2 separate regions of the Homo sapiens genome follow, and region 1 is linked to region 2. A link means that fine-mapping ties the variant in region 2 to the expression of a gene that starts in the linked region. Tissue or cell type: whole blood. Region 2 holds a variant in brackets; the other region holds the start of a gene. All regions are shown on one strand. Distances are from middle to middle.

Region 1 (4,000 bases), 140 kb after region 2:
TCTGGAGCCTTAATAAACTGCAATTTGTATCCAGTCTCCAGCTTTGTTCTATAGGGATGACTGGAAGACACCTGGCAGAGTATTGTGGATACCTCAGGAGGCACAGAGGGGTGGTGGGGTGGGGATGGCACTGGGAGCTCAGGAGCCTAGCCTGAGGCTGATGATCACATCTCTCTGCAGCTATTCTTTTCCCTCTAATATGGGCAAAGAGGCCAGCAGGGCCTTGAGAGGGATCAGTTGGGTGGGAGAGGGGATCTTGGGGATGAGCAGCTCTGGGCCCGAAGTTCTTAAAATAAGTTGGGGTGGGTACAAGAGCAGTCAAGTGGTTTATTTGTTCTTCTTGGGGGCCACTAAAAATCCACATTGTAAAAAGAGCTCAATTTGTTGAGCCTTTGTCATGTCAGGCTCTCTGCAGGTGGCTGCCTTGCTTAATCTCAGTGTAAATTTTCACAGTCATACAAAGGGATTTGGGAACCACTGGTGTTGCCTGTTCTTTGGGGAGCCAGGCTGTGAGGGAAAGGCAATTGGCCAGTGTTTGAGAAGTTCATGAGATTGAGGAAATTAGAAAAAAAAAAAAAAGTTGTGGTCAAAGGGAAATGTTTCTGAGCATGATGCTAGTAAATACAGCTCTAGGATCCACGCTTAGTGGGAAACTGGAGGGATCAATGGACAGAGAGAAGTCAGATTAATAGGAGTGAGGAAAAACAATGGCTTGAAAAAACAGAAGGTTATAGTCTAAGAAAGCATTCTATAATTATAATTTCAAAGGTAGAGCAGTTTTGAGAGATAGCAAGCCCAATGCAGCCATGGGACTGGTTTGCTTAAGTGAAGTGAAGGTAATGCTCACTGGGTTTAATGAGATGAAGAAATGGAAGGTTAGGGTGTTGAATGGGTCTTTTACCTAGATATTTTGATCATCTAGGTCAAATGATCGCAGGAGTTGGGATGGACAGAAAGGTGAAGTGCCATAATCTTCAGTGTGGGAATATAATCTATAGGTTAATGGAAGCCAGTGGCCTGTAGGACAACAGCAGGAGTAGAGGGATCTATCTAAAAAGTATTGAGGTCAGAACAAGGGATTTCACATGAGTATTGGATTAATGGTTTTGGAAGTTAAAATGACACTGCTGACACCATCTTCCATATGGATTTTTGGGGGGAAAAAAAGGAAGACTGGAAGGGAATTGAATCCTCAGGGTTTTAACTCTCATTGAAAATCCTCTTGTAATGACCCCAGTTGGAAGTAGTAAACTCAGACCTCCTTGTGGGCTTTGAGTTACCATTAGAAGAAGCAAAGGTCCGTTTCCATTTTATCCACCTGAGCCCACTAAACAAGATGCAAGATTCCTCCATGGCCCTTAGAACAAAGTTGATTTCCTTGAAAACCTTGGGAACCCATAATAAACAGGACCCCAGCTGATTGTAGATCTCCTGGGAAGCTACTTAAAACTGGAAACTGATTTGAATAAAAGGATCCTGGTCTTGCAAAAGCTTTACTCTGTTCATAAATGTAGTCGTAAAATGAAGACAAAATTGATAATATGGGGACATAAAGGATAAAAGAGGAAAAAAATTTTTTCACTGCAATCTTTCGAGGCAGATCACTTTTATATAAGTCTCCATATTGTAAATGCAGAAACCTAGGCTCTGAGAGGTTATTTTGCTGATGTCATACAGCTAGGAAGAACCCCAGTCTGTGGGTCTCTACAGCCCACTCACTTGTGGTGATTCCCAGGGGACCAGGCTCAGGACGCAGGTGGGGAGCCCTGGGCTTACTCAGTGCTTGACTGGCCAGAGGGGAGAATCCGGGTGGCGGCCCCACCCTTGCCTAGCATTTGGGACCACCCATGCAAGGGAGGAGCCAGTACCGTCACTAGTTACTAGGCAGAGGGGTAGTGGTGGTGGAATATAGAGCTCATGTGATCCGTCACATGACAGCAGATCCGCGGAAGGGCAGAATGGGACTCCAAGCCTGGTGAGAAATTGAGAGGGCTCGGGAGAAAGGGATCACGTTGGAGGGAGCACACATTGGGAGGGTGGGAACACAAGGACAACGTAGCTCCCACTGAAACCCACCTGCTGCCCCTACAGCCTCCTAGGGCTCTTTGCCCTCATCCTCTCTGGCAAATGCAGTTACAGCCCGGAGCCCGACCAGCGGAGGACGTGAGTTGACTTAGCACAGACTGCCCCCTTCCCCATACCCTGTTCTGCCTCCCACTGTCCTGGTCCTAGCTTCTCTCACCCCCGTGCCAGCTCCTAGTACGCACTCCATAGCTTCATCTCTATGTTCCTAGCCTCAGTCCCCTATCATTCACCTCATGTGATCTGTATCTGCTCCTAGGATCCTCCCCAAGGTCTCAGCTCCTAATCTGGAACCTTCCATGACCAATATTTTCCATCTCCACCCTAACCAAAGCCATGTCCCTGACCCCTGACCCTACAGGCTGCCCCCAGGCTGGGTGTCCCTGGGCCGTGCGGACCCTGAGGAAGAGCTGAGTCTCACCTTTGCCCTGAGACAGCAGAATGTGGAAAGACTCTCGGAGCTGGTGCAGGCTGTGTCGGATCCCAGCTCTCCTCAATACGGTGCCTTTTGGGACTGAGGACAGGATGTGGGATGCGGTGGAGGGACACAGGGCTGGGTTGGGCATGGGATGGCGATCATGTCAGAGCCTGCCAAGACACTTGTGTTCCTCAGGCTAGAAACCTAAAAGGGGATGTGGTTCAGTATACAGGCTTTATGATCAAATACGAACTCAAATTCTGACTCTGCTACTTACTAGCTACCAGGCATCTAGTACAACTTACGTTCCTTCCCCTACCCTCAAATCCATTCTAATTTCCTCTTTTGTTCACATACTAAGGCTGCCAGTTCTAACTCCCAAAGAGCCTTTGGATTAATCTCCTTCTTGCCGTCTTTTGTTACGACCAACTCCGTTATTTATTCCCACTCCTGGACTACTGCCCAGCTCCCCAGCTGATCTGCAGTCTCCTCCCTCCACCCCACCCCTCACTGTACTCCCCCACTCTGCTTCAAAACAGTCTCTCCAACAGTCAAAATGGATTGGTTCCTTCTCCTGGTTAAAGCCCTTCACAGCAGGGGGAGTGTGTGCTTGTGAACTGCAGAGGCTGGGGACGGGGCAGTGTGACACTAGTGTGCATGGCAGGAAACAGTGACTCACCATCGTGTTAAGCTTAAAATCAACAAGTATGCAAATTTGAGCTAAACTGAATAACTGGTACCGAAAGATTTGAAAACATTTACCGGACATAAGCTTAAAATTAAAATGGAAAATTTATATGTATTAACCTCATTCATTTTCATGATCATGGCAATACATGCTGTGGTGCGACATTTGCAACTTACTGGCCTTTAGGGTAAATCCATATTATTGGCCATGGCATTTCAAGTCTCTCCAGCCTTTTCTTCCTCTGCTTCCCAAGTACACCCTACACCTGCACACATAGCCCTCCTTTACCCTGTTCCAGGCTTTGGGAAGTCCTGATGTCTCATAGTTGAGGTCCAAAAGGGGGAGTTTGGGAAAGCAATGAATGAGGGCAAGTGCCTCTTCTGAATCCCTGCAGGAAAATACCTGACCCTAGAGAATGTGGCTGATCTGGTGAGGCCATCCCCACTGACCCTCCACACGGTGCAAAAATGGCTCTTGGCAGCCGGAGCCCAGAAGTGCCATTCTGTGATCACACAGGACTTTCTGACTTGCTGGCTGAGCATCCGGTGAGAGGAAATGATTGCTCCATGGAGGGCACCAGTCATCCCATCAGTGAGATGGATGGGAGGGAGTTGAGAGCTTGCTGGGGCTTGTGGGTGGGAGCTAATGCATGGGGAGACAGTGACTGACTGCCCAGGGATGCTCAGAGGTAGCTTCTTCTGTTCCGTTTTGAGCTTTCTGACCTCTGTTCTCTGACCTCCAGACAAGCAGAGCTGCTGCTCCCTGGGGCTGAGTTTCATCACTATGTGGGAGGACCTACGGAAACCCATGTT
Region 2 (5,488 bases):
TTCCTGCTATTGAGTTGAGTTCCTGATATATTTTGGATATTAACCCTTTATTAGATGTATGATTCAAAATATTTGTATCCGTTCTATAGGTTGTCTTTTCACTCTAATGATTATTTCCTTTGCTATGCAGAAGCTTCACTGTATAAATGCAGCATATCACATTTACTGTTTTGCACACGTTGAACCATCCTTGCATCCTCGAAGTAAATCCCAGATTGATCATTGTGAATGATCTTTTCAATGTTCGGTTGAGTTTGGTTTGGTCATATTTTTGTTGAGAATTTTTGCATCTATGTTCATTAGATGAATTGGCCTGTAATTTTGTTTTCTTGTAGTGTCATTCTCTGCCTTTGGTATCAGAGAAATACTTCCAAAGTAGGCAGAGACAGCATGAATTCAAAGACAATTTTCAGGCAAGGGAAAACAATTACAAACAGTTCTTCTTTTTTTTTTTTTTTACTTTAAGTTCTAGGGTACATGTGCGCAACGTGCAGGTTTGTTACATAGGTATACATGTGCTATGCTGTTTTGCTCACCCATTAACTCGTGATTTACATTAGGTATTTCTCCTAATGCTATACCTCCCCCAGTTCCCCACCCCACGACAGGTCCCAGTGTGTGATGTTCCCCGCCCTGTGTCCATATGTAGTCATTGTTCAATTCCCACCTATGAGTGAGAACATGTGGTGTTTGGTTTTCTGTCCTTGTGATAGTTTGCTCAGAGTGATGGTTTCCAGCTTCATCCATGTCCCTGCAAAGGACAAGAATTCATCCGTTTTTATGGCTGCATAGTATTCCATGGTGTATATGTGCCACATTTTCTTAATCTAGTCTATCATTGTTGGACATTTGGGTTGGTTCCAAGTCTTTGCTATTGTGAATAGTGCTGCAGTAAACATATGTGTGCATGTGTCTTTATAGTCACATGATTTATAATCCTTTGGGTATATATCCAGTAATGGGGTCACTGGGTCAAATGGTATTTCTAGTTCTAGATCCTTGAAGACTCGCCACACTGTCTTCCACAATGGTTGAACTAGTTTACACTCCCACCAACAGTGTAAAAGCATTCCTATTTCTCCACATCCTTTCCAGCACCTGTGGTTTCCTGACTTTTTAATGATCACCATTCTAACTGGGGTGAGATGGTATCTCATTGTGGTTTTGATTTGCGTTTCTCTAATGACCAGTGATGATGAGCATTTTTTGATGTGTCTGTTGGCTGCATAAATGTCTTCTTTTGAGAAGTGTCTGTTCATATCCTTTGCCCCCTTTTTGATAGGGTTGTTTGTTTTTTTCTTGTAAATTTGTTTAAGTTCTTTGTAGATTCTGTATATTAGCACTTTGTCAGATGGGTAGATTGCAAAATTTTTCTCCCATTCTGTAGGTTGCCTGTTCACTCTGATGGTAGTTTCTTTTGCTGTGCAGAAGCTCTTTAGTTTCATTAGATCCCATTTGTCTATTTTGGCTTTTGTTGCCATTGCTTTTGGTGTTTTAGTCATGAAGTCCTTGCCCATGCCTAGGTCCTAAATGGTATTGCCTAGATTTTGTTCTAGGGCTTTTATGGTTTTAGGTCTAACATTTAAGTCTTTAATTCACCTTGAATTAATTTTTGTATAAGGTGTAAGGAAGGGATCCAGTTTCAGCTTTCTACATGTGGCTAGCCAGTTTTCCAAGCACCATTTATTAAATAGGGAATCCTTTCCCCATTTCTTGTTTTTGTCAGGTTTGTCAAAGATCAGATGTTTGTGGATGTGTGGTATTATTTCTGAGGGCTCTGTTCTGTTCCATTGGTCTTTATCTCTGTTTTGGTACCAGTACCATGCTGTTTTGGTTACTGTAGCCTTGTAATATAGTTTGAATTCAGGTAGCATGATGCCTCCAGCTTTGTTTTTTTGCTGAGGAACAATCAGTTTATCTTAATGTGGGTTCCCTCAGAATTTGATTCTGAGCAAGAATTTGAATACGTAATATATTTAGGAAGTAATTCCAGGAAAAACTAGTAGAATTTGCAAGAGGGAAACAGACAAAGAAAAGACTCAATAACGAGTGAGTTGTCTTATTGTGGGCAACTGATTCCTAATCTTCTTAAGGAATTCTTGGAAAGAGTAGAACATGTATCTCAGAGGTATACCTCAACTACGATGTAAGAGATTGTGTAGGCCATTCTTACATTGCTATAAAAAATACATGAGATTGGGTAATTTATAAAGAAAGGCTTAATTGGGTCACAGTTCTGCAGGCTGTACAGGAAGCCTGGCACTGGCAACTACTCAGATCTGGTGAGGCTTCAGGGAGCTTTTATTTATGGTGGTGAAGGCAAAGCGGGAGCAGACATGTCACATGGCAAGAGAGGGAGCGAGAGAGAGTAGGGGAGAGAAGGTACCACACACTTTTAAACAATCAGATCTTGTGAATAGTCACTATTGGGAGGACAGCACCAAGCCATGAGGGATCTACACCGATGTCCCAGTCACCTCCCACCAGGCTCCTCCTCCAGCACTGGGGATTACAATTCAATATGAGATTTAGAGGGGACAACATCCAAACTCTATCAGAAATCTAGGGGTTTTTACACACCAATTCTCATCAATTATCAATTAAGGCGGCTTGGTGTAGGGCACATTAGTATCTTAGGCCATTCTGATCTTCTGGGCAAGTGGGCATAACTGGCATGTTAGCCAAAGAAAGTTCTGTTGCAAAAGATGGCTGTCAGATGTCAGCATGCCCTGAAATGATAAGTTAAAAGAATATGTAGTGGGCATTGCCCTCATTTGCTACAGTGTAAAACAATAAAGTTTATAACAATGAATTTCCAGAAGTATATTCTTAAATTTACTAGAATGTTCAAAAAGAAAAAGAAATAATTGAATGATGAGTCTGGTGGAGCAGACTCATAATTATCATGAACTCATAATAATATGAGTATATGAATAATAATATGCTCTAGTGGAGCAGACTCATAAATATTATGGTACATTATTTTAAGCTTACACTCCTTGACTCAACTTCCCAAAAGTTCAGTTAGATTATT[G/T]TCTCTATACTAATGTCATACCATAGAAATATTACCTGAAATCTAAAAATAAAACAATATTTGCCATGTACCTCCACATTCTAAACTGAGGTGCTACACCATTAGGGAGGACGTACATGGAGGTGATCAAGAGATGGCATACAAGCGTTAAGCCTTCAACTTTTTTAGGGTATGAAAGAGAGAGACAGTTGGAGGTTGGTGGAGAGGAATATTTGAAGTTATCTCTCAGAGTATTCTTTTACCCCTCCCTCCATAAGGAAAGAAGGAACTAATCTTAAGTTTGTTGATGAGAGATTGAAAAGTACTACTGGAGAACTTCGTGTCTCTTATCTGGAATTTGGTGAGTGCTAGAACAAGTACCTTCCTCACACATGCCCAAAGTAATTTATAGATTCAATGCTATCTCCATCAAGCTCTCATTAACTTTGTTCACAGAACTGGAAAAAACTACTTTAAATTTCATATGGAACCAAAAAAGAGGCCGCATGGCCAAGAAAATCCTAAACAAAAAGAACAAAGCTGGAGGCATCATGCTACCTGACTTTAAACTATACTGCAAGGCTAAAGTAACAAAAACAGCATGGTACTGGTACCAAAACAGATATCTAGACCAATGGAACAGAGAGGCCTCAGAAATAACACCACATGTCTACAACCATCTGATCTTTGACAAATCTGACAAAAACAAGTAATGGGGAAAGGATTCCCTGTTTAATAAAAGGTGTTGGGAAAACTAGCCATATGCGGACAACTGAAACTGGACCCCTTCCTTACACTTTATACAAAAATTAATTCAAGATGGATTAAAGACTTAAATGTTAGACCTAAAACCATAAAAACCCTAGAAGAAAACCTAGGCAATACCATTCGGGACATAGGCATGGGCAAAGACTTCATGACTAAAACACAAAAAGCAATGGCAACAAAAGCCAAAATTGACAAATGGGATCTAATTAAACTAAAGAGTTACTGCACAGCAAAAGAAACTATCATCAGAGTGAACATGCAACCTACAGAATAGGAGAAAATTTTTGCAATCTATCCATCTGACAAAGGGCTAATATACAGAATCTACAAAGAACTTAAACAAATTTACAAGAAAAAAAACAACCCCATCAAAAAGTGGATGAAGGATATGAACAGACACTTCTCAAAAGAAGACATTTATGCAGCCAACAAACGTAGGAAAAAAAGCTCATCATCACTGGTCATTAGAGAAATGCAAATCAAAACCACAATGAGATACCATCTCACCCCAGTTAGAATGGTGATCATTAAAAAGCCAGGCAACAACAGATGCTGAAGAGGATGTGGAGAAATAGGGACAATTTTACACTGTTGGTGGGAGTGTAAATTAGTTCAATGATTGTGGAATACAATGTGATGAGTCCTCAAAGATCTAGAACCAGAAATACCATTTGACCCAGCAATCCCATTACTGAGTATATACTCAAAGGATTATAAATTATTCTACTGTATAGACACGTGCACATGTATGTTTATTGCAGCACTATTCACAATAGCAAAGACTTGAAACCAACCCAAATGCCCATCAGTGATAGGCTGGATTAAGAAAATGTGGCACATATGCACCATGGAATACCATGCAGCCATGAAAACGATGTCCTTTGCAGGGACATGGATGATGCTGGAAACCATCATTCTCAGCAAACTAAGAACAGAAAACCAAACACCGCATGTTCTTACTCATAAGTGGGAGTTGAACAATGAGAACACATGGACATAGGGAGGTATCACACACTGGGGCCTGTCATGGGTGGGGGACTGGGGGAGGGATAGCATTAGGAGAAATACCTAAGGTAGGTGACGGGTTGATGGGTGCAGCAAACCACCATGGCATGTATATACCTATGTAACAAAACTGCACGTTCTGCACTGTACCCTAGAACTTAAAGTATAATAAAAAAATTTTTTTAACTGGTTGGTATTCTCTACTGAAGTTGAAGATATGTATATGCCATAACCAAGCAATTCTACTTGTTGTATATGCCTGACAGAAATGTGTGTATATGTGCACCAAAAGACATGTGCAAAACTATTTATAGCAACACTGTTTAAAATACCCCAAAGCTGAAAACAACCCACATGTTTGTTCATCAGCATAAAGGATAAATAAACTGTGATCTAGTCATACAATGCATTATACAACAAAGAAAATGAACTACGAGGCCAGGCGCAGTGGCTCACACCTGTAATTCCAGCACTTTGGGAGGCTGAGGCAGGCAGATCACACAGTCAGGAGCTCGAGATCAGCCTGGCCAACATGGTAAAACCTGTCTCTACTGAAAAAATGCAAATATTAGCTGGGCGTGGTGGCAGACGCCTGTAATCCCAGCTCTCAGGAGACTGAGGCAGGAGAATCATTTGAACCTGGGAGGCAGAGCTTGCAGTGAGCCGAGATCGTGCCATTGCAATCTATACTACAATGCTATA

Evidence for each region. PIP is the estimated chance that this variant, and not a neighbour inherited with it, causes the effect.
Region 1: TPP1 starts here. The variant in region 2 is fine-mapped to the expression of TPP1 in whole blood (INTERVAL, PIP above 0.99).

What each region holds. Positions count from the first base shown.
Region 1 is chr11:6,617,359-6,621,358 of GRCh38, reverse strand. TPP1 (tripeptidyl peptidase 1) reads left to right here and starts at 1,937. Exons shown (of 13, transcript NM_000391.4): 1 at 1,937-1,975; 2 at 2,092-2,163; 3 at 2,444-2,583; 4 at 3,583-3,733; 5 at 3,931-4,000. The coding sequence starts at 1,959. DCHS1 (dachsous cadherin-related 1) reads left to right here. Exons shown (of 21, transcript NM_003737.4): 21 at 1-29. RefSeq lists an enhancer at 1,567-1,616 and a silencer at 2,167-2,216.
Region 2 is chr11:6,759,463-6,764,950 of GRCh38, reverse strand. No RefSeq gene overlaps it. Among named protein-coding and RNA genes, the nearest start is that of OR2AG2, 9.8 kb to the left of the region's middle. The variant G/T (reference allele first, on the strand shown) is at 3,035.